3 linked regions of the Homo sapiens genome follow. The protein of the gene in region 3 interacts with the protein of the main gene of each other region in a biochemical or structural test. Each region holds a gene or a part of one and is shown on either strand. Other genes may lie near its edges. The genes, in order: GRK2, CREM and KCNIP3.

Region 1 (7,604 bases), on a different chromosome or scaffold from region 3:
GCCTGGCCATTGTGACCCTCAAAACCCAACCCGACATCCCCCACCCTGTTTATCTCACCCCACACTGAGTGCTGTCTGGGAGCGCCACACCAGGCTACACTCCCGGCCTCAAATACCACCTTACTGTCCCCTCCTGCCCTCTCCTGGCCCACCTCAAGCCCAGCCCTGCCGGTCTGTCCCAACAGCCAGCTGAGGCCTGCATCTGGTCCTCACTAGTCTGGGCTCCTGGGGTAACGTGTAGCTGCCATGCTGAGGGCATTGCAAGGCTGGGGGCCTGAAGGGACAACACACCTGAGCCCATGTCACGCTCACATGGCCCTGCAGGTCTATGGGGCCACCAGCAGGCCTCCCGTGAAATGACTGCAGCTGGTGGAGATTTGGATCCGCAAGTCCAGGTTCTCTGTGCTTGCCATGGCCCCTGCCTTTCTGCACCCCGGCCCTGCCTGCCCCTAGGAGCCCAGCCCAGGGCTGGTCGGACTGGCCACCCAGGCTGTGGTCACGAGGACCCGCTGCACATCTACCCCTGAGGCACTGTGTACCTCATGCCAAAGCCACCCCCTGCTCCAAACAGCCCTGCCCAGGGCATGGTTCTGAGCCTGTGATACCAGACAGCGTGTGCAGAAGCCTTGGGAAGGAGAGGAGGCCTCTGGGTCTGGAAAGCCTGTGTGGAGAAGGTGGAACTCCACTGGGTTCCTGGAGTGCAAGTGGGATCTCGGCAGCTGGCGAAGCCAGGGGGGTCGGTAGACGTGGGAACAGGCAGGGGACAGTATGTCCAGGGATGAGCAAGGGGCCAATGGGGCAGGAGAGAGGGCACACAAAGGCCATGGTGAGGCGGAGGGCAGGGCCTTGCAAACCAGGGGGCTTCACAGCCAAGGAGTGGGCAGGAGAGCAGGACTCAGGAGGCTTGGTCCAGGGCGGTGGGTGGCCCGACTCCACTGGAGGCGCCACGCGGAGGAAGCCCAGGCAGAGGCAACACTTGGGCAGGAAGAAGGGGAAGGGGGTGGGTGGGAGAAGGCTCAGGCTGTCGGGGACCGGGAGAAGGGTTATGAGGCCAGCCCCGTGAGGGCTTCCAGGCTTTGGGCCCGAGGGTCTGGAAGAATGGCAGCTTCAGCCAGAAGAGCCGTCTGCGGAGAGCAGCTCCAGACAGTGCGGACCTGGCCTGTGGACCCTGCCTGGCCTCTGACCTCGGCCTCGAGAGGGGGCTCTTATCCGCTTCCACTGGGCACTGTCCTTCCAGGAAGGGCTGCAGTGGACTCCCGGGCCTCGGCCCCTGATCTCACTTGGTTCCAGCCTTCCTCAGGAAAGGCCGAGCGAGATAGCACGAGCACAGCAGGGCTGCCATGAGCACGGTTCCAAGGCCGCGACCCCCTGGCCTGCTCCCCACCCTCAGAGGCTGGGAGGGGCCGCGGCCTCTTCCAAAGTTGTCTCCAGCAGGAAGCAGGGCACTGAAGACAAGGATGGGCCTAGGTGACCCTGAGTTCGCATCCTATGACTGCTTTGGAACAGACCCTGCCTGGATGGGAAGAGGGGGGCCCATGCCCCCCACCGGGGAGTGAGGATGCCCTCTGAGAACTGACAGGAGCTCCGAGGATGGGCCCCGCGTCCACACCAGCACACCCGCCCCTTCGGGCCACACGCCAGCTCATGTCCACCAGCCACCGTCAAGGACATGTTTCCCGGCATGTGGGACTCCCAGGGACACAGGAAACGGTGGACGGAGATTGTGGTGTTTCACACACAGCAAGGGCTTCATAAAAATCTCTTGAATTGAGAAAGACACGGTCCCTGCCCTTGGCACCTGCAGACAGGAGGCCTGGGCCCTGGGCGACCCTCAGGGCACAGGCTGTGCACTGGGAGACTGGAACGTGGAGAAAACCCCAAGGTCAGGGGCCTGCATCTCACCTGGGAGGTGGGCCAGGACATTTTGGTCCACAGAAGGGGATGAAAAAAAGCAAAAAAAAAAAAAAAAAAAAAAAAAAAGGTGCTGGTCAAGCGGAAGGTAGCGACAGGCAGATGCAGATGACAGGCAAAGCAATCCCAGCCTGTAGGGGTCACCCACCAGGAGCCGGGCATTGTCCCAGGAATGGGGGCCACCGGGCTTCAGCAGTAAGCCCCACTGAGCCCCAGACTTGCTTCTTAGGAGCCTGCAAAAATGGTGCCAGCTTGGCGGGACGCGGTGGCTCACGCCTGTAATCCCAGCACTTTGGGAGGCCGAGGCGGGCGAATCATGAGGTCAGGAGTTTAAGACCAGCCTGACCAACATGGTGAAACCCCGTCTCTACTGAAAATACAAAAATTAGCCCAGCATGGTGGCGTGCGCCTGTAGTCCCAGCTACTCAGGAGACTGAGGCAGAAGAATCGCTTGAACCCTGGAGACAGAGGTTGCAGTGAGCCAAAATCGTGCCACTGCACTCCAGCCTGGGTGACAGAGTGAGACTCTGTCTCAAAAAAAAAAAAAAAAAAAAAGGTGCCAGTTTGGCAGAGGGAATGGCCACCTAGGAGCCAGGGAGTAGCCACTGCCACTTTTCAACTGGACACACAAAGTCTCCAAGGGGGAAGCATGCTTGGTTCCCTGCCTGCGACAGCCAGGGGAACCTGCCGGGCAGGCCCTTTCTCCTTCCCAGGGGCTCTGCTGTCAGCCCCGGCCTGGGAACAGCAGGAAGCAGGACCCGGGGCTCTGAGGCCATCTCTCCCCTCAGCAGCCACGCCTGGGCATGGCCACCACATTCTTCCCAGCCCACAGCACTCCACTTTCTTCCTTAAAAAGAAAAAAATGTTTTTTAAATAAAATAAACAACCCCCCTCCCCCCAAGCAAGAAACCAAACACGAGGTCAGGCCTGAGCAGAGTCCTTGAATGGAAGGCCCCCAAAGTGGCAATTTTAGGGTTTCCTGTCTATTCCCATGGGTCTGGCCGCCAAGGGAACTGGCAGGTTGGAAGAACTTGCCACTGGGGGCAGCTCCTGCCAGGGTGGCAAGCACGGGCGAGCACAGGGGTGGGACAGCCTCCTGGACTGGGTCACCTTGTCTCCAACACTGCTCCCTGATACTGGCAGAGTCTGGAGTGGCAGTGAGCCCAGAGCGTGTCCCTGTCCCCCACCCAGGTCAGCAACCCTGAGATCCGGGGGAACGTGGCTCCCAAGATCTACTCTGGAGCATCAGGAGAACCAAGCGGCCTCAACAGTCCCAGATGGAAGGACGCTAAGGTTCCCAACACCTTTGGGCAAGGGCCTCAGAGTTGCCTTTGCTCTGGCCGTTGGACGGGTGCCTGGGTTCCAAGTGGCCCTCACCACCTGGTCACAAACTTGAAATGTCCAGTTTCCCCAGCTGTAAAATGAGGATGTCAATGAGATGCTGAATCGCCACCGTCACACTGGCCATTTACAAAGCCTGGGTGGACACGGCAGAAGGAGGGCTTCTAATATGCCAGGCTGGCCATGCTGCCCGCCGTGCCCCGCCTGCTGGGCCATGGGAGAGAGCCGCCAGAGCCCCATTTCTCAGTGCCCCACGGCTCACCGACAGTCCATGCTAGAATCACACAGTAACTGGTCTTGCTCAAGCCTCTGCTCCACATTTGCCGTGTCCTCGGAGAGGATGGGGCCTTGGAGGATGGGGCCTGTGGCCAGGGCTGAGCCGAGCAGGGTGGGACTCCTCTGCTCACAGACCAGCTTCAGGCACTGCATTGCTCTACTGCGGGCCCAGTGGGTAGAGCCCGTGGCTTGCCCTGCCAAAGTATCAAGGGCTCCTTGGCACAGAGGTACTTGGTGCCCACCCAGCTTTGGGAAGGAGCAGTCAGTCCCACCTTGGCACCCCTGCAGTTACAGCGGCCTGCACCAGCTCCTACTGCTCCCGGAGCAGGCTCAGCCCAAGACAGTGAGCAGCTGCAGCACTGAGCACTGGGTGACAGGGAAGGAGTGGGTGCTGAGGGAGCACTTCCGGTCCCTTCTGGCACCTCATGGTTCAGAAGAAATGCAAAGTCCAGGCCATCCTCTGTGGCCTGGGCTCTCTTAGGTGTCTCCTGCTCGGGGTCAGAGGCTGTAGCTGTGTGGACAGGAGGGGGTGACAAGTCAGAGACAAACACACTCTTGCTGATGGCAAGGAAGCTGGCTGGGCCACGTGCTCCGAGGCCCACAATGAGTTCGTGGCAAAGAAAATGTCCAAAGGCTCCCTGAGAAACGGCCTCCACTAGAGCACCCTCCATCCCCCCCTTGACCTCTGTGGAAGAGCTGGGTGCAGGGCTCAGAGGACCCTGACTTGTGCCCAGCCTCTGGCCTGGCTGCCCTCCCGTCCCTGACCAGGAGCTGTAGGAGACGAGCAGCCCCCTTCCCTGGAACCCAGGATGGGAGGCAGCCTTGGCTGGCAGCTGGCAGCCAGGGGCCATGCTTCCTGTGCCCCTCATGTGACAGTGATGCTAAAGCTTTGCCACGCCAGGACGGTGCAAGCTGGCATGAAGGCTACAGGCCTGGCAGGTCTGGTGCGGCCACTCTGGGAACCGTCCCCTGGGAGATGAGCGAGCATTCACCAACCAGTGCAGCAGGGCCTGTGGCTGTGGCCGAGGTGCTCCCTGTGGCATTTCCAGGAAACCAGACACCAAGGTGCCAGCAGCAGAAGGAAGTCCCCTGGGGCTTCTTAATGTTTCTCAATGACTCTCCCTGGGGCGAACAAGGACGGGGCCACAGATCAAATAGGAAAGGCCAGCCCAAACCGGCAGGTCCAAGGTAAGCCCTGAGCAGGGGAGAGAAAAAGCCAGCTGGCCCCGCACACACAGCCAGGGTCTGCAGCAGCCTGGGCTCCGGAACGTCGTGTCGGCCACAAAGCAGCTCCCTTGCGGGGATGCTCAGGAAGAGGCACTCTGGCGGCCTTGTCAAATGTCACGGCTTCTTCACAAATATGACATGAGCACCCACACCCTGCAATTTACTGCTGACATGGAGACCGTAATCTGCATTACGCTAGAATGCACCAAGAACAAACTTCCAGAATTCCATGCCCTGTGGTTTCCAGGAGGGGGTTATCCCCCATCCCAAACACGAAATGGCTCTAGAGTCAGAAAATTGCCCCCACCTGGGAACAGAGCTGCCAACATGTTAATACCAGAAAACCCACTTCTGCCAGCATAGACGCGTCCTTTTGCAGTAAACAGCAAAGCAGAGAAGGGATATTACTGTTTTAGAAAAAAGCTGCAGTCAAACACCTCATTTTTAGTATCTCAGTTGCAGCAGAGTAGAAATAACGTGAATATAGCTCCATCCAGCAGTGGAAACTGACCCATGGGGAGCCGGCGGGGAGTAGGGAAGGGGCCCAGGAAGAAGGGGCAGGTGTGAGGGAGGCTGTGCATCCTCAAGGGCTACACTGTGCTTTTGGTTCCCACTGTGTGTTCCGAGGCAAGAGCATACCCTGAAAGCAACAGCCAAGCGCGTGGAGCCCAAACCCACCAGCCTGAGCACTCAGTCCCTCTGCCAAGCCCACCTGGGTGCAACCTAGGCACGGGGAGGAAACACTGGCTGCGGAGCGCTCCTGTACCTGACGTCACCGGGAACTTACTACTAGGAATTGATTGTGCATTAATAGGACACCTCATTCTGGGTTAACAGCCCAGGTTCCCCTGCACAGATTCCAACCTGCATTGCTCACACTCCCTTCAAATCCATTTACCCAGGTAACGGCAGGCGGGCGACTTAATGGCAAATAAGTGAAACGCATGCTCTGGAAAGGAAAACAGACGGGAAAGACATCCCAGAGACCCATTCCTGGGGAACGGCGGTGCTTCAAAGGCCCAGAGGGAGTGACTGCAGGAAAGATCATCTTGTTTGCAGGGAAAGGAGTTGGGAGAACGCTGCCACTGAAGTGGAAAGTTCTGGGTAAGGGACAAAGGCTGGAAGCAGCAGGGTTTCAGCTGGTGCTGCAGGAGTGAAGGAAGGAGGGAGGGAGAGAGCTTCCCGCTGCACCCCTTCCCCCACAAATCGAGGGCAGGAAGTTCTGGCTGCGAAGAGTTAACAGGAACGAGGCAGCGGAGGAACAGGGGCAGGGTCTGGGGAGACAGGGAAGCCAGAAAGGGGCAGGAAGGAGGAAACTCTCGGTGGGGGAGGGACCAGGAAACAGCCAAGAAATCGGGAGGCTGCAAGAGGCACCCAGCTCCGACAATCTGCTGCTGGGGCTGCCACTGTCACCGGGGAGGGCAGAGGAACCTCCTGGGAGCGCCCAGGCAGGGCTCCTCAGCTAGGAGCCCAGAGATTAATTACACGAGGCCTCAGTGGTCATATTAAGCAAATGATGATAATTACAAGACTGCTGGCTGCTGGGAAAGGGAGACAGCAGTTCCTTCAGGGCAAGGCCCAGACCACAGACCCTGAGAGTGAAGGGGCAGCCGCCTCGTTTTACAGAGGTGGAAACTGAGGCAGGTCCAGTCGGGCTAAGGGACTCGCCTGGGTCCCATGTGAGCTGGTGGTAGAGGGAGAAGCCAGACCTCCCATCTTCCAGATACACAATGCTGCCTTACGCTACCTCCTTCTACAAGAAGGTCGGGGAAAGGGACTGTTTCCTTGGATTCTATAGGGTGACAGAAGGGGAGGCCCCTGTGCCAACTCAGTGTGGCACTGTGCCTAACCACTCCCATTCCCTAGCCTTTGGAACTCAGAGCTGTGATGCCAGCCCCAGTTCTTGGCCAAGACACATCCCCAGGCACCAGCCATGGAGGGGCTGCCAAGGTGGGCCACCTCAAGGTATGAACAATTCCCAGTGGCAACCTGTCACTGGGACAAGCCACAGCCCCTCTCCCTGACTCTGACCTTGACCTTGTGGGTATGGGGAAGACAGGCTCCTGCATCTGACGGGACCCTGGAGTGGGGCTGCCCCTCGGTGCAGTAGCTTTGCCACGGCAGCTCAGTTCTCCATCCCAGCCAACGGGAAGAGGGCTGAGCCTTGTGAACTGTGACAGCCGATGGCCCCAGACAAGGGGTGCCAGTCAGCCCACACCGCAAAATGTGGACAGAGGCGAGAACAGTGGTGTGCAGGGGTGGGTGGAGGGGATAAAGCACAGCAAAGAAACAGCACTGGCCTGTGTGGTCCAGAAACCCGAGGCCCCATTCCAGCTTTCTTCTGTGACGAGGACACGACTCCTCCCCTCCCTGAGCCTCAATAACTTCAACTGCTAAAGGGGAGAATCCTAACTGCTGGGCCTGCCTCTCACAGTTGTCAAAAGGACAAAACAGAGTAAAAAGCACTCTGCAAGTGGAAAAGTGTCAGGCAAACATGAAACATGGTCAGGATCACCACTGGGGCGGCGGGGGGCGGGGGGCGGCGTGCTCTGCCCCACTGGGTGTGCAAGGCAAGGCGTTATGCAAAGGGTGGCCTGCTCCCTAATGCCCCAGGCCTGGACCCCCATGTAGGGGTGGCCAGTAGCCCTTCCCAGGCCTTAGCGCACTGACATTCGGCGCTCGCACCTCCAGTCCGTTTCACAGATGTGGGCGATTTGCGGAAGGCCATGCTGCTGATGGTGACCCAATGTGAAAACCTGGGCTGCCTGGCTCGGCCTCCTGCTGTCCTCCTAGAATCCTATCCAACCTTGTTTCTGCTCAGGACTGCATGGGGGTGCCACACAGTCCTG
Region 2 (7,604 bases), on a different chromosome or scaffold from region 3:
AACAAATTTTCACTTCTTTCACCTAAGGTGCCAGTGTCTACACAGGAAGATAGATTAACATTTTTAAAAAGACTTCCACATGCTGCGTTCTCTGTGTTTTATTTCACTGACAGGCCAGTGTGGCAGAAACTGAAGAGTCAGTTACAGAATGTCAATAGAACTGAGGTTGAGACACCCTGATGTAACAGCACTTTATCTGGCTCACCTAGAGCAGTTATTTTCTGTACACACTTTAAAAACAGGGTATTTTTAAACCATGGCTTTCCAAAGATTTCATGGGTCTCAGGATTCAGCCCTCATAGTAAAAGGGTTTGAGAGAGATCTAACTAACTTCTTACAAGTATGAAAATGTCAAAAGACACTGCTTTCTTGGCCCCTTGTGGCTAGACATGAGTAAATTGTGTATGTTTTCATATATTTGAATGTGTATTTTTCAGTTGATAATTAGTTTGATGTCACAGAAATAGTGCTTTAGAAAGAGCAGCCCAAGGTCAGGTAACCACAGTGTATTAGAAGTACAAAGCCTAGGCCGGGCGCGGTGGCTCACATCTGTAATCCCAGCACTTTGGGAGGCCGAGGTTGGTGGATCACCTGAGGTCAGGAGTTCAAGACCAGCCTGACCAACAAGGAGAAACCCCGTCCCTACTAAAAATACAAGAAATTAGCCAGGCGTGGTGGTGCATGCCTGCAATCCCAGCTCCTCGGGAGGCTGAGGGAGGAGAATCGCTTGAATCTGGGAGGCGGGGGTTGCGGTGAGCAGAGATTGCACCATTGCACACCAGCCTGGACAAGAGCAAAACTCCGTCTCAAAAAAAAAAAAAAAAGAAGTACAAAGCCTAGAACAGAGCAGCCACTCAAAAAATAGAATGAATGAATGAATGAATGAATGAATGAATGGCTATCATTTCCTCATGACAGATGATATTATAAAAAACTTAAGCCCCCTGTGAATCTAGGAGAGTTAAATGAGGTATGGTTTCAAATTCCAATCATAGAACCTAGTTTTTCAACACCAAATTATCAAGCTTTTAAATAACGATCAAGTCAATCTGAGGTGAGAGTAGCTGCCTCAGGGTAAGAACCCCTAAATAGGTAGATAACAAAGACCTTTACTTCCTTTTTTCTCTTTCTTTTTGCTTTACTCGTTTCCTTTTTTCTTTTCAGTAATGTTTCCCCACAGTTCTGATCAAAAAACTTTGTTTTCACAATATGAACAGCTGACACATCAAGAATCTGTTTCTCATTTTATTTTCTGGGGAAGTCATTATATAATTAGATATGGAAAACAAAAGCTAAACAAACACACACACACACCCCTCACACACTGGCTCTAGTGAGAAAACATTTCTACTGATTAAGTCAGGCACGTCAGCCTCATTTTCATTTTTATGCCAAAGGTGCTCTTGATTTTGTTGTTATCAAATGACAGAGGACCTTCCCATTGAAAATGTTCTCTCTCATCTGACAATAAACAAAATTTCCCAGTGCCTCAGGATCCTGGAAATAGGTTTTACGTGGGCCTGTCTGTATTCAGAGATTTGAGGAGAAAACTGTTTAGGTTTCAAAATAGTCAAGGATAGCATAACATGTGCTTTCAATAAACATAAATCAAGATAGAAAAAATAAGATGAAATTAACTGAATGAATTTAGACATATCTTCTATTTTAGCTATTTATTTAAGAGATGGGGTCTTGCTGTGTTGCCCCACATCCTGATATTGGTCTAGCTGGTCTTAAACTGCTAGGCTCAAGCAATCCTTCTGCCTCAGCCTTCTGAGTAGCTGGGACTACAGGCACAAACCACCAAGCCTGGCGATGTTATACACTTCTTATTTATTTATTTGTTCATTTATTTTGAGATGGACTTTCACTCTTCTCGCCCAGGCTGAAGTGCAATCGTGTGATCTCAGCTCACTGCAACCTCCACCTGCTGGGTTCAAGCGATTCTCCTGCCTCAGCCTCCAAAGTAGCTGGGATTACAAGTGTGCACCACCACACCCGGCTAATTTTGTATTTTCAGTAGAGATGGGGTTTCACCATGTTGGCCAGGCTGGTCTCGAATGCCTGACCTCAGGTGATCCGCCCACCTCAGCCTCCCAAAGTGCTGGGATTACAGGCGTGAACCATCACGCCCGGCCCATGTTATATACTTCTAATCCTAAATTTATACACATGAGCTAATTAAAATACATACACATGTAAATGTTTATATTTAAAACCACTCTTGTTCCAAATTGCAATCCAAAGATTCATAAATGAAATCTCACTGCATTAACTTTAAAAACAGCAGCAAACAGACCTTTGTTCCAATGAATTCTCAGGTTTAAATTCAGAGTGACCATAAGAGAGCACCTATGAGTACTTGTACCTTAAAAGCCAAGAGGTGCATTATAGCAGAAGGAAGACTAAATCATGCTATAACAACAATAGCAACATCAAAGTTTAAAAGCCAGAGTTACATTAAGTAGTGCCTTAAAAAATTTTGAAACAGTTGCCTTAGAGAAATGTAAACAACGTCACTATTAAGAACTGCAACTGGATTAACTTTCGAATGTGTAAGCCTATTATGTTCTAATTCCCTTTATGAAGAAGTTGAATTGGTGCTTATTCGTGAGCCTCCTGAGAATTCTGAATTCTTATAAGGAGTCCACAAAGTTCATATTTTTCTTTTCATAATGGTGCAGTTTAGATTGACCCACTTACCTTTCATGTATAAGAATTCCAGAAAGATGAGTTAATACTCTAATAAGATTCCTCGTAAAATACAATAGGCACAAGCAGAGACAAGGGCCATTTGTGGGAAAAAAACTGAAGTCTTGGGTGATAGTCTTTAATTGGTACAGGAAGAGGTTGGGTATAGTAGGATGGAGGATTTAAGTAACCTTTGTTTCAAGAGGAAATTTAATGAATTAGGAAGCTTCAAACATTTTAATTTCCTCGGTTGCTTTTACAAATTCACTCATTTACTGCCTATCTTAACTGTCTCATGCAGCAAGTAACATTCTTTGTTAATTCTAAGGCTGTCTCTCTCCCGCCATCTCTCGGGTATATGCTTCTGAAATAAAAGACTTTCTTCGACCAGCTCAACTGTTATGCAACACACCTATCACTAAGATCTGTACTTCCAGTGAGGATTCTGCAGGTACAGCTCACTTACTTGGTGTTGTAATAATGGATCCCTGTCTATTTTATGCTTTTTCCTACTCCCCAGGGAGCAGCCTATTCCAACTTTCACTTTTTAGTTTTTGTGATAATAGTAAGTCAATATAATAAGGCCAACTTCTGCCAAATATCTTTCAACTATTAAAAATGTAACTGCTTGTATATGGGAAAACTTGAATATACTTTATTTCTTCAACTTTGATACACATTTAGTTCTTTTAAACACCAGCTAACTCATTATTCCAAATTAAAAATAACTAATAAAATATTGGAAAAAAAGAAATAAAAGCAAAGTTTGGGAGAAAGCCATCCATGGATAAAAGCTGAACAATTAAACCTAAAATTTTTTTTTATAATAAAAGGTTATGAAAGAGCATTAAAAAAAATTTACAGCTCAAAGGGAAGGAAAAAAATAGGAAAATCTCCAGAAATTCTAATAAAATACGTTCCTCTATTCAAAAACCAAAGGAAACTGGCAATTGTTTCCATTTCTAGACATTCTGCTACAACATTAAAGCATTAATATCTGCTAAGTTAGTTCTATAAAAAATAAGATCAATAAAAATGGATGTTGTGTGTGTAAGTATGTTTACCCTCCAATTAAAGTAAACGTCTTCTAAAAAGTTTGAATGTTGTTAGTATTCACTTCTCAAAGAATTATCTACATATATTTCACTAAATGTCCCCAAAATGCATTTTTAACAAAAGAAATTCACATTGTGTGAACAAATGGCAATTTTTACCTGCAGACTGTACATACAGAACTATAACTTCTCATCAGAATAATTTCTAGGATCATACTGTATAGACTCAAATTAAGAAACCAAAGTAAGAAATAGTCCATGACCTCTTATGTGGCAAATAGACAGATGTGTTTTTTTTGTTTGTTGTTTTGAGACAGAGTCTCACTCTGCTGCCCAGGTTGGACAGTGCAGTGGTGCAATCATAACTCACTGCAGCCTCAAACTCCTGGGCTCAGAGAATCCTCCCACCTCAGCCTCCTGAGTAGCTGGGATGAGCGCATACCACCACACCCTGCTAATTTTTAAAATTCTTTTGTAGAGACAGGGTCTCACTCTATTGCCCAGACTGGTCTCAAAGTCCTGGCCTCAAGCAACCCTCATTGCCTAGACCTCCCAAAGTGCTGGGATTACAGGTGGGAGCCATCACACCTGGCCTAAGATCTAATTTCTACAGATGCAGTTTTCTAGTTCTCAACCAAAATTCCTGACTCTGCTCCTCTCATCCCCCCCACAGACACACAGAGTGAGGTTTAAGGCCAGCCCCCTGCTGTGAGCAGGTACCAAGGACACAGGGAATGAAGCCATTGGGGCTGGCTGGAGGGAAAGTTCAATGAACATGAATGAGACAATGGTACACCTAACTTAATTTCTCTGTTTCATGCCAATAGTAGCATGTCTTTTTCCCCCTACTTTTACCCATTATCTCCTTTGTCTTCACAGGAACCCCAGAGTTTGGCAATTTAGTATTATTCCCACTTCAAAGACTAAAACCTGAGATGTGAATTTAATAAAGCTTCTTGCTCTGATCATTGAGTTTGCAAATGGCACAAAGATGGTTCCTTCCACATCCTCTCCAGCTTCAACCCCATACATTTTCACAATTTCAAATTTTCAGCTAATAATCTAGACAAGTTAACCCTACAGCATCTGCTTCCCTATCAACTTGTAAAGGAATCACTGCTTCTATCAGAAGTCCTAAGTAGCATTAGCATATGCCAGAGAAATGTTACGATGACAGCATCTTAGTGGTTCCCAACACTTTGAGAAGTCTTAGTGTCATTTCAGCAGTCACTTCCAACCTTTTCCCTGTCATTACACAAACAGAACATGATGACATGTGTACAGCCCACTGGGGTGAGTGGATGGAGCTGCTCAAGGCCAGGGCTGACCAGCCAGGAGGCGCCAGCAGCTTCTGCCCAGCCCCTCTGGGGACGGGGGGACGAGGCACTCAGCACTCTCATAACCTGCGTGCTGTGCTGTAGAGGCTCATCAGCTGGCATATTCAGTTTTACAGTTCTAAAACCCACCAGAGATTCCCAGTGTGCCAGACAAAAGAGCATGTAAACGAGAGAAGTAATAAAAAAATGACAATGTAAACCTCAAGGTCTATTTCTTACAGATGGTGGGGATTTTCTTTTCCTAACACTGACTTTGGACAAGTCTACTGGGTGCCCTGTCAAACGTGTGAATACACTACACCCCGGATCTGCTAGGTATCATGGTAGGAGTTCCCCTCAATTACCAACAGAGAATGTATTTAATAGTTTACTACTGCAAATCTACCACTGCTACAAGAAAAACTCTAAAAAGCTCCACAAAAATAATGACTATATAAAGTCTTCTCATACATTAAAGATTATAGCTTGTTTTAGTAGTCAGGACTTAAATTAAGACTTGAGTTTTTTTTTCTTGGTATTGCTACTTTTTAAAGGAAAAACAAAGAATATATCTAAAATCTTAATACCTTATTTGGATAAACACATTATTTAATATCACATATATTCCAGTACCTAAGTAGCTCTTTTTAAAGTCAGAAAACTAAAATTATGAATCTCTTCAACAACATGACTGCTGTCAATATATTTGTTCAATTACTTTGAGGACCTAGGGTAGCAGAGTTTACAAAACTCACTTTACTTCATATTATAATTACATGGGAAATTGATTTAGACAACTTCCATGGACAATTTATACTTCAGAAAGGACAGGAATATCACATTATTCCAGTACCTAAGGGGCTAGCTTAGGATATGTGATATCCCTAACCTTTCTCCTCCTTTTTCTTTTCTTTCTAGCTCTTGCTTTTTACGTATCAAACACTCTTCTTTTGGGAAAAAAACTAGTGCTTTAATCAGAGCAAAAAGCACAGAATTAACGGTCCATTAAAATGCACAAGACTGAATGTGAATGTATCTGTTTATTTAGAGCTTTCAGTGTGTAAAATTTCAAATAAAATTATCTATCCAATTGCTACAGTTTAAAAAATTAAATCATTTTTCCATTCTCTTTTAGGAAAAACTGTAGCACAAATTAACAGAGTAGAGAGTAGTGAAACATTGAAAACATACTTTAGAAAACTCTCAGATTAGTAAGAATAGTATGTAATTGTGGGTAACAAAAGCCAACAAGAATGAAATACAGACATTTATGTTCGCATGCATCATAAAGACAACAAAAACAATGTTTTACTAGAGATTAATATAAACATGTAAATAGGAAAAATTCTCCTTTTTACCCCAAAATTTTCTTCTATATTCGGCAGTCAAAATTTTTACTTTTCAAAATTATATGACAGCTGTCAATACAAAGATCTCACTTTTTAACATATACTTTCATTCTATGATACAGTTTAGGTATTAATGATGCATTTTAAAATGGAACAATTTAATGCCAAAACCTGAGTTGCTTCAATATAACTAGAGAAGACTTAAAGCTAGCACTGTATCATATCGAATTGCAGCATACATACTGTATTGCCCCGTGCTAGTCTGATATATGCTAGTTGGTACTGCCATGGTAGCAATACTAGGTGGTGTTCCTTCTTCCTCTGATCTCTCTTCTTCAATCTTGGGAACACCAGGCACATCAGAGGACAGTTCATTCAGTATTTTCCTAAAATACAATTTAACAAGGTAAGTCACTAAGATACATGAATAAGTCTTAAAACAGAAAAGCTATAAAGGAAGAATTGATTTGATGTATAATTATTCTACCATTTTGGAAAAAGTATCTTTACATTAGGAAACTTGGTTAACTTACCTATAAGAGGGTCTTCGTGAAAGGATTTCTCTACGTTTATGAGAATCAATTACACCTTCTGATTCTGCAGATTCATCTGTCTCTGCAATTGCTGCTACCTATAATACAAGATTTTCTGAAATGTATCATAAAATATATGCTCTTTTCCCTCATTCAAAAAATTGAGGCTAAGAGTCTGTGTGTGCAGCACTGAGCCAGGAGCTGTGGAAGCAACTGAGCAATAGAACACAGTGAATCTGCACTGAAGGAGTCTGGCTCAAGAAAGGAAGCGCAGACGCAAACATTTCAGTTATAAAACAAATGTGTGTGGAAAGGAATGTTACGGGTACTCTATACTACAGAAATACTAGGGAAAGAGTGGTTGGGATGTCAAATGAGGCATTGCAGGAAAGAACAAAATGTAAAATACCCAAGACCTAAGCTCCTCAACCTGAAAGTGCTCCTACGAATCCAGGAGGGAGCCAGCGAGGGGCCAACGCAGAAGAGAGCTCCCGGATCACACTGCTGTTCCCACACTCTCACAGCTGGCGCTGGCGTGAGCTGGGTCTTCACATTAGCCATCAGATAGGCCCAAGACAGAATATTTAAGTAGATAAGCAAGTCAGTAAGCAAGCCTGGGTAAAATCAGGATTTCTATTACAAGGAGTAAGTTAGGGCTTG
Region 3 (7,604 bases):
CTTCTCGGGGCCCAGGGTTAGTCACAGGGATTCTGTCTTGAAGCCCCAGGCCCAGGTCGTGCGGGAGATCCCATGGGTGTCCTGGGTTCTAGCTCACAGGGCTCAGTCCTCCCGGGAAGGCTGGGTGAGCCCAAAGGGCAGGCTGAGCACCTCCCAAGTGGATGTCTATGTTGAGCTGAAAGTAATCTCGTCACGACAACCCCCTGCAATCGGTAAGACGATCCCCATTTCACAGATGAGGAAACTAATTCCCTGAGAAGTTTTGGGACATGCCAGGGCCACACTACACATATAGTCTTCTGATTCCAAAGTTCACATGGGCTTGACCACAGGCTTTGCTGCTGAGGCTGTTTCTCGGCCTGGGTCCCTGGGGCGGTCTCTGGAGCTGGGTGTGTTCCGAAGCCCCTCAGGCACATCAGCAGCCTTCCAAAAATATCCGTTGAGGAGTGCTGTGATGCCCTCCTGGGCTAGGGGGCCCCAGTGTGTCTTTTCTCCCTGTGGAGAGAGTCTGGGTGGAGTGGTGGTGGGGGTTCCGGGCCAGGCTCCTCCATCTGGCTGAGGGGCCAGAATCCCACCTGTGAGCCCCACAAGGCAGGCCCATGATGGGCACCCCTCTTTGTGAGGCAGGGGGTGGGTTCTGAGAAGAGAAGGGAGGGGAGGGCCAGGGACAGGAGGGCAGGGAGACCCCAGCAGCCGAGCCTGGGAAGCTGGGACTCATCAGGCTGCGGCCTGGGCCCTCAGGCTGCTGGGGAGGCGGGAGGAGGTCATCCTCATGAATATCTGACACTTGTCTGTCTGGAAGAGGGTCTGACTGAGCTGTCAGGGAATGTTAAATAGCAGCCCAGGCACCCTCCTGCTGGCTTGGGAGGCTCACAGCATGGAAGGGAGGGCGTCCTAAGAGGCGGCCCCCTGGCCCCTCACCCCACAGTGCCTTGGTGCTGGGAGAGAAGCTGGGGCAGTGATGAGATGGAACATGAATTAGATGCCCCAACCCTGCCGGGAGCCCCAGTGCCTCCTTGCCAGGCCCTGACAGCCCCACCGTGCCCCTCCAAGTCTGCTCCCACACCACCGCCTTGGCACCTGCTGCTCCTGGCACTGGACACTTCTGCCCCAGGCGTTTAAGGCCTCACTCACGGCTCAGGTCCTAGAAGAGCCCTGCCTGACTACCTAGGCCACCCTCCCCCATGCACCTCCATCTCAGCACTTCTTCACCCAGCCCTTGTGAACTGATCCTATTATTGTGTTTTCTGTCTCTCCCCTTTAGCGCATCAGCTCTGCGAGAGTGGAACCTGATCCTCATGTGACCTGCTTTTCCTCGTGACACAGCCTGGCACCCAAGAGATCCTCACTCCCAAAACTCAACAGTAAAAGAGCAAACCATCAGGTTAGAAAATGTGAAAGACATGCACAGACATTTCACCAGAGAGGACACGTGGATGGCAAAGGCGGCGGGAAGAGATGTTCGCCGTCATTAGCCATTCTGGCAACGCAGAGGAGGACCGCTGTGAGACACCACCATGTGCCTGTCCGAACAGCTAGAACCAAAGATAATGACAACTGAAAGCTGGTGAGGATGTGGAGAAACGGAATCACCCCTCCATTGTCGGTGGAAAGGGAAAACGCCTTAGCCACTCTGGAGAACAGTCTGGCAGCTTCCTATAAAAACTAGGCATGCGCTACCACAGAGCCCGACCACGGTATTTTTGGCCGTTTATCCTGAAGAAACGAAAAGTTATGTTCAAGTGAAAACATGTACACAAATGTTCATGGCAGCTTTACTTGGAACGGCCCCATACTGGAAGCAACCCAATGCCCTTCAATGGGTGAATGATTAAACAAACTCCAGTGCATCCATACCACGGAATTCTGGACAAGTAAAACAAACAAACTGTTGGCGCACACCACACCTGCGTGAACCTCCAGAGAATTACGCTGAATGAAAAAGCCAACCCAAAAGGTCACATTCTGTGTGATTCTATTTATATAACATTGTAAAATGACAAAGTTTTAGAAATGGAGAACAGATTAGAGGGCCAGGGGTTAAGGATGGGGGGAGGCAGGCAGGAGGGAGAGGGGTGTGGCTCTCACAGGGCGGCAGGAGGGGCCTTGAGGGGACAGAGCTGTTTTGCATCTTGATGGTGCTGTTGAGTGCCTGAACCTACACGTGATAAAAATTGTAGCAAAAAATGCACACGGAAATGAGTGCGTGTGAACTGGGAAATCGGACTAGGACTGGTGGGTTGCATCATTGCAGACACTCCAGTTGTGCTATTGTGTTGTAGTTTTGAAATATGCTGTCATTGGGGAAACCAGGTTAAGTGTACATGGGCCCTCTTTGTGAGCTCCTGCAACTGCATGTGAATCTACAACGAGCTCAATAAAGATTTCCATCAAAAAATACTCTCATGCACCCAAAAAGAAGGTGTTAAAAACGCAAGCATGCACAAGGCTCTGAATAAATATTCACGAATGATCAAAAGTCCCCTGTGCTCTTCACAATTCACCTGGGGCTCTCTCCTCCCACTCCTGCTCGATGCCGGCCTCATTTTAATGGGTGACAGAACTGTCATTGTCTACCAGCTTTAGAGGATGGCCAGGGTTGAGTGGCAGAGACGAGTGAAGCCAGAAGATCTGGGCCCTGGGTTCAGGCAGAGTCCCTGGTGGCATACTTGGCAGTGTGGGCATTTAGGGCTGTGTCCCAGAAACGGCCCTAGGCTGGCCCTGGGGACCTGCAGCCTTCTCAAAGGTCACAAGTTTCCCTGAAGGATAGAGGCTGCTGGTGAGCCAGGCAGGCCATTCTCTGCCAGTCACCTGGTGGCCGAGATCTGTAGCTCCTGCCCAGCCAGGCAGGCCAGGACCAGGCCTCAACTTCCTTCTAAGTCCTCCTGGCCTGTGGGGAGCCAGGGAGGGATGGAAAAAGATGGCGTGGGTGATGCCCCTGCTGTGTGCTGGTGCTGAGTTAGTTGTTTGGAGGGGTTATCATATTTAATGGTCACACCAACTTTTTGAGGTTCCTTAGAACCTCAAAATTACCCAAAGCACCCAACTGAGCCCCAAATCCGGTAATGGATTCTAGCTCACCCGTTCTCATGCAGCTTGCCAGGGTCCCTGGGGTATGCGTTCTCCTGTTATTCAACAGGGGTAAACCCAGCCTGTTCTGAGTCAGCTGCGTCCTGGGGGCTTTGGCCTGAGGTCTCTGGCAGTGGGGAGCTGCACCTACGAGGTGCAGGAGATGACTTAGACTCGGGGCCAGCACACTCTCCAGCTCCCCACTGCCATTCTCTTTACAAAGGGAGGGCACGGCCTCAGCTCAGAGCCTCAACAGGCCACAGACCATGGGTGGGAGTTTATCGCTGCTGCCTTATTTCATGGCAATGTGGTGGTTACCTTCCACTTCTGCTCCCGGCTTCCCACTTACAGTACTGATTTAAAGATTCCCTTTTAAATGAATTCACTAAAATTCAATGCATGAGTTAATTTAAAGAAAAATAATAAGAAACAATAGCACAGGTCACAACAGATACAGCAAAACGGTAAAGGCAGGAAGTGTATGTTTCTCTCTGTGGCTGAGGCTGGGGGCTTGCTCGACTCAGCCAGGCGACCCCTCAAGTCTGAGTGACGGCGGCCTCTCGCCAGGCTGCTGAGACTGACATGTGGCTGGTCCACACTGAGACGTGCCCTCGTGTAAACACACACTGGGTTCCAAACATTTACTTACTAGACTATCAAATAGTTCATTAAAAATGCTTTATATCAATTGCAGGTTGAAATGATAATCATTTACACTGGGTTTAATAAAACATATGGTTAAAATAATTTAACCTTTTTTTCTTTCTTTACTGTGCCTACTGGCACATTTTAAGTGACATCTGTGGCTTGCATCATGTCTCTATTGGACAGGACTGATCCGGATGGTTCTCAGACCTGCCAGCCGGCAGGCTTGGGGCAGCATCCTCCTGGCAGGGCACAGCCGCCCCAGCTGCTCTCTGCCACTCAAGTCCAGCTGGACTCGCAGCTGCCTCAGAAGGGTGGCCTGGTGGAATGTGCAGATCAGATTGGGGGTTCGATGAGGCAGGCGGCCATCTGGGGGAGGCGAGGGATGCCCAGGCCCAGGAGAGCGGGGGAAGGCTGAGCCAGGCGGAGGTCATGGCTGGGTGCTGGGGATATTATGGAGACAGGTACTCAGGACCTACTCTAGATGTGGCCAGTGAGGGAGGGGCGGCGACTTCCCAGTGCCTGAGAAAACTGTCACTGCGGGAATGTAGGAGGCAGGGCTGTCCCCCATGCCTTCCTCTCCCCCTGAACACAGTCCAGTCTCTGCCGCAAACACCACACCATCATCCCGAGAGTTTCCACACCACAGACAGAGGCTGAGCACTTGGAACAAACCTCCAGGACCTGGACCGGACATTTTGCCTCGTGGCTCCCTACACTCTAGGTCCCCTGAGAGGCCAGGTGGCCCACGGAGCAGCGTCCCACTCCTTGCCCCATGCCCAGCATGGCACAGCTTCGTCTTGAGGAGGCCCATCTGGCTGAGAAGATGGAGTCAGACTGTCAGGAGTGTGCCAAGGTGAAACCCTCGAGCCGCTAGTTCAGTCTCCATGGTTCTCATCAACTGTGCTCCAGAGAAACTCCCAGAAAGCCTTCCAGAGCAGATGTGGCAGAGGTGACTGGGGGGCACATGACAGCCTGTGAGAAGTGGGGGTCCTGGAAAACCTGCGTTAAAGTATCCAGGCTCCCGGGTGGCGTTCTAGGAGTACATGCATGGGCAAGATGCATCGCTGACTCCTCCCAGATGTCTACAGACTTAACGGATGCAAAACAGAAGTGAGTGGCTTCGTATGTGCCACCAGGGCCCCTGGGTGTGGGCTCAGAGGGCACGGCTAGTTGGGGGCAGGGCAGGAGATCGAAGGCAGGTGGATGTGATTTCCAGCAGCCGAGGACAGTGGGAGGGGTCTGTGGCCAACCAGTTACATGAATCCCGCACCCTCGCTTCCCAGCTCGGTGACCCTGACAGAGAACCTGACAGCTCCGAGCCTCAGTTTACTCATCTGCAAAATGGGGGTGACAATGTGCCCTCACAGGGTTAAGGGGAAGGCAAGGTGACAAAGCCCCCAGTGGGGGAGAGTCAGTGTTCCTCGCCCTTCTGATCCCAGGGAGGGTCTGGCTGTCCAAACCCACAGCCTAGCATGCCTGGCAGGGAGGCCCAATGTGCCGCTCTCAGCTGCCACATGCCAGAATCACGTGGGGAGGCTCTCACCATCTGCCTGCCCAGGAGCTGGATTGTTTGATGCAGAGAGGGCTGGGCTACTCTGTTCTTATAAAGCTCCTCAATAGATCTGAAAATGCAGCTTGGGGAATTTGTTTAGAGTGTCTGTCCCTCCAGATAGAAAATTCTTGGCCTTGCCTGAAAGGCAAAGGGGGTCCCCCGATTCTCACCCCCTTCCTTTCCGGAAGGGCTTCACCGAGGCCAGGGCCAGCATGAGACATCCAGGCTACTCAGATGTGGGGCTCCCCACCCCCCACCCTGTCCACGGCTGCTGCGGTGCAGACTGGCCCACCCAGCACTGCTTGCTGTCACTGGCTCTATTTCCATCACTCGGGACAGATGGCAGGAAGCAGTGGTGGGCGTTGTGTCGTGCAGGCCCCAGGGTATGGAATGGGGAAGCTTTGGGGAGCCTGGATTCTCCACCCACCCCTGGGCACAGACAGACATAGGCAAGGCAGCTCGCCTTGTCGGGGGAGCCGAGGTTGTCATGAGTCCCTGAAGATGCATGTGTGCACATATGCACATACACACACACGTACACATGCCTGCAAACACACCTATGAGCGCGCACACACACACACACACACACACAGCCCTGGGCCCCAGCCCTCTGGCAGCACTGGAGCAGGAGAGCTGGGCTGTCCACCCCTGCTCTGATGGCTGCCACCTTGACAAGGACAAGCTCCCCATGCTGCCTGGCAGTGAGGGTGTCACGTTAACCCAGGGGTGAACTTGAGTTGCCCATGGCCAAATTGCCTCTTGGTGGCCTTCCCAGGCTCTCCTCAACAGTCAGAAGGGATGGCATAGGTATTCCCTTCATGTGTGGAGGCCTCACTCTGTGCCAGGGGCCAGGCCAAGCTGGTTGGTATAGGATCACATTTATCTGGGGGTTCTGTGATATTCATACTTCCCCCAGGAAAATGAGGACACAGTGGCACAGATGAGCTAAGTAACCTGTCAGAGGACACACAGCCAGTGTGTGACAGGGCCTGGACTGAGCCCAGGTCTGCTGGTGCAGTCAGGGCTCACAGCCAACAAGGCACAGCCATGATGCCTCTTGGCCATGCCTGTCTCCTGCCCGGGGTCCTTTAGTCCCGCACAGTGAGGATCAGGGCTCTGCGCAAGACCCATGGACATTTGTGTGCACATGTGGGGCACTGCTGGCAGTGGCCCTGACTTGAGTCAGCCAGGCCCGTGCCTCCCAGCCCTGCACTGCTCATCACAAGGCCTGGCAGATGCTGTGAGCATCTCTCAGACCCAGATGGGAAGACTGAGGCCCTGAGTCAGTGGGGCAGAGGTGGGGCTACAGTTTGGTTCTCTGGAGCACTGTCCAGAGTGCCCATCTTGAGAGAGGATCCCACGACAGAGCTGGGCACAGGGGCATGTGGCACCAGCAGCAGAGGACTGGGATGCAGGGGACTTGTCCCTTGCCTACCCTGGCATCTGCCTACTGTCCATGTGATAAAGGCTGGGGAAGGCTGGGGGCGTTGGGCAGGCTGGGAGGTGAGGCCAGAAAAGACCAGCAGCTGCTTTTCCTGGCTGAGCCTGGCCCAGGCATGGCCAGGCTGATGGAGAGGGCATGCTGGGCAGAGAGCTGAGGTGGCAGGTCAGAGGGGGAGGCTGGGCCGACTCTAGTGTGGGACACGCCACCCCCACGCTGCCCTCCCGTCTCAGCTCAGCTGCTCCCTCTCCAACTCTGCAGGTCCCCTTGCTTCTTTCCCTGCCACAGGGCTGCTCTTTGGCCTTCTAAGGCATGGGCTGATCTCAGATGACAGACGCACCTGCTCAAAGGCAACATCAGTCAGCTGAGGCCGGGAGCCCTGGGCAGGAAGCAGCACGGGACTCGCCCCATGCTGTGCCCTCCCCCGACTCTCAGGCTCCTGCCTGCCCCAGGTCTGGGCACTAGGCCAGAAAGACGTGCTAACTTCTCTCCCCTCTTCTGCTTCACCTTGGAAACTGAGAGTGCTTTCTTCCGTGCAGAAGCCACATTGGCTGCTCCTGGAAGTCACTGGGATGCCCAGGGGTGGGCTGGGGAGGGCAGGGGGGCTCTAAGGCCCCTCTGCTAAGTCAGTAAAGCAGTTCCCTGCCTCACACAGAAGGTCTTGATAAGACAAGGCAGCCTGAATTTAAAATGTTGGGGTCCTTTACTTCCTAGCTCTGGATCCACAGTCCAAAAATGGGAGGCAGCTAGCTCCAGGTCACGTGGCTAACGCAGGGGATGCGGCCAGGTGGAGTCTGGCTTGTGTGCACTCACTGGAGGGCTCAGAGGGCACAACAGACCACCGGCCGCACGGCTGGGATGGGCCCCTCCTCTGCCATCTGGTTAAAGGCATGC

Evidence for each region.
Region 1: the proteins of KCNIP3 (region 3) and GRK2 form a complex in vitro, tested with the Homo sapiens proteins (one study listed by BioGRID).
Region 2: the proteins of KCNIP3 (region 3) and CREM form a complex in vitro, tested with the Homo sapiens proteins (one study listed by BioGRID).

Annotation. Positions count from the first base shown.
Region 1 is NC_000011.10:67,268,872-67,276,475, reverse strand, and holds part of GRK2 (beta-adrenergic receptor kinase 1), read right to left. Parts: intron 1-7,604. UniProt on the Homo sapiens protein: Specifically phosphorylates the agonist-occupied form of the beta-adrenergic and closely related receptors, probably inducing a desensitization of them. Key regulator of LPAR1 signaling.
Region 2 is NC_000010.11:35,178,327-35,185,930, reverse strand, and holds part of CREM (cAMP-responsive element modulator), read right to left. Parts: intron 7,060-7,604; exon of another isoform or gene 7,043-7,059; coding exon 6,945-7,042; intron 6,798-6,944; coding exon 6,655-6,797; coding exon of another isoform or gene 6,602-6,654; exon of another isoform or gene 6,084-6,601; intron 1-6,083.
Region 3 is NC_000002.12:95,300,110-95,307,713, reverse strand, and holds part of KCNIP3 (calsenilin), read right to left. Parts: intron 1-7,604. UniProt on the Homo sapiens protein: Calcium-dependent transcriptional repressor that binds to the DRE element of genes including PDYN and FOS. Affinity for DNA is reduced upon binding to calcium and enhanced by binding to magnesium. Seems to be involved in nociception.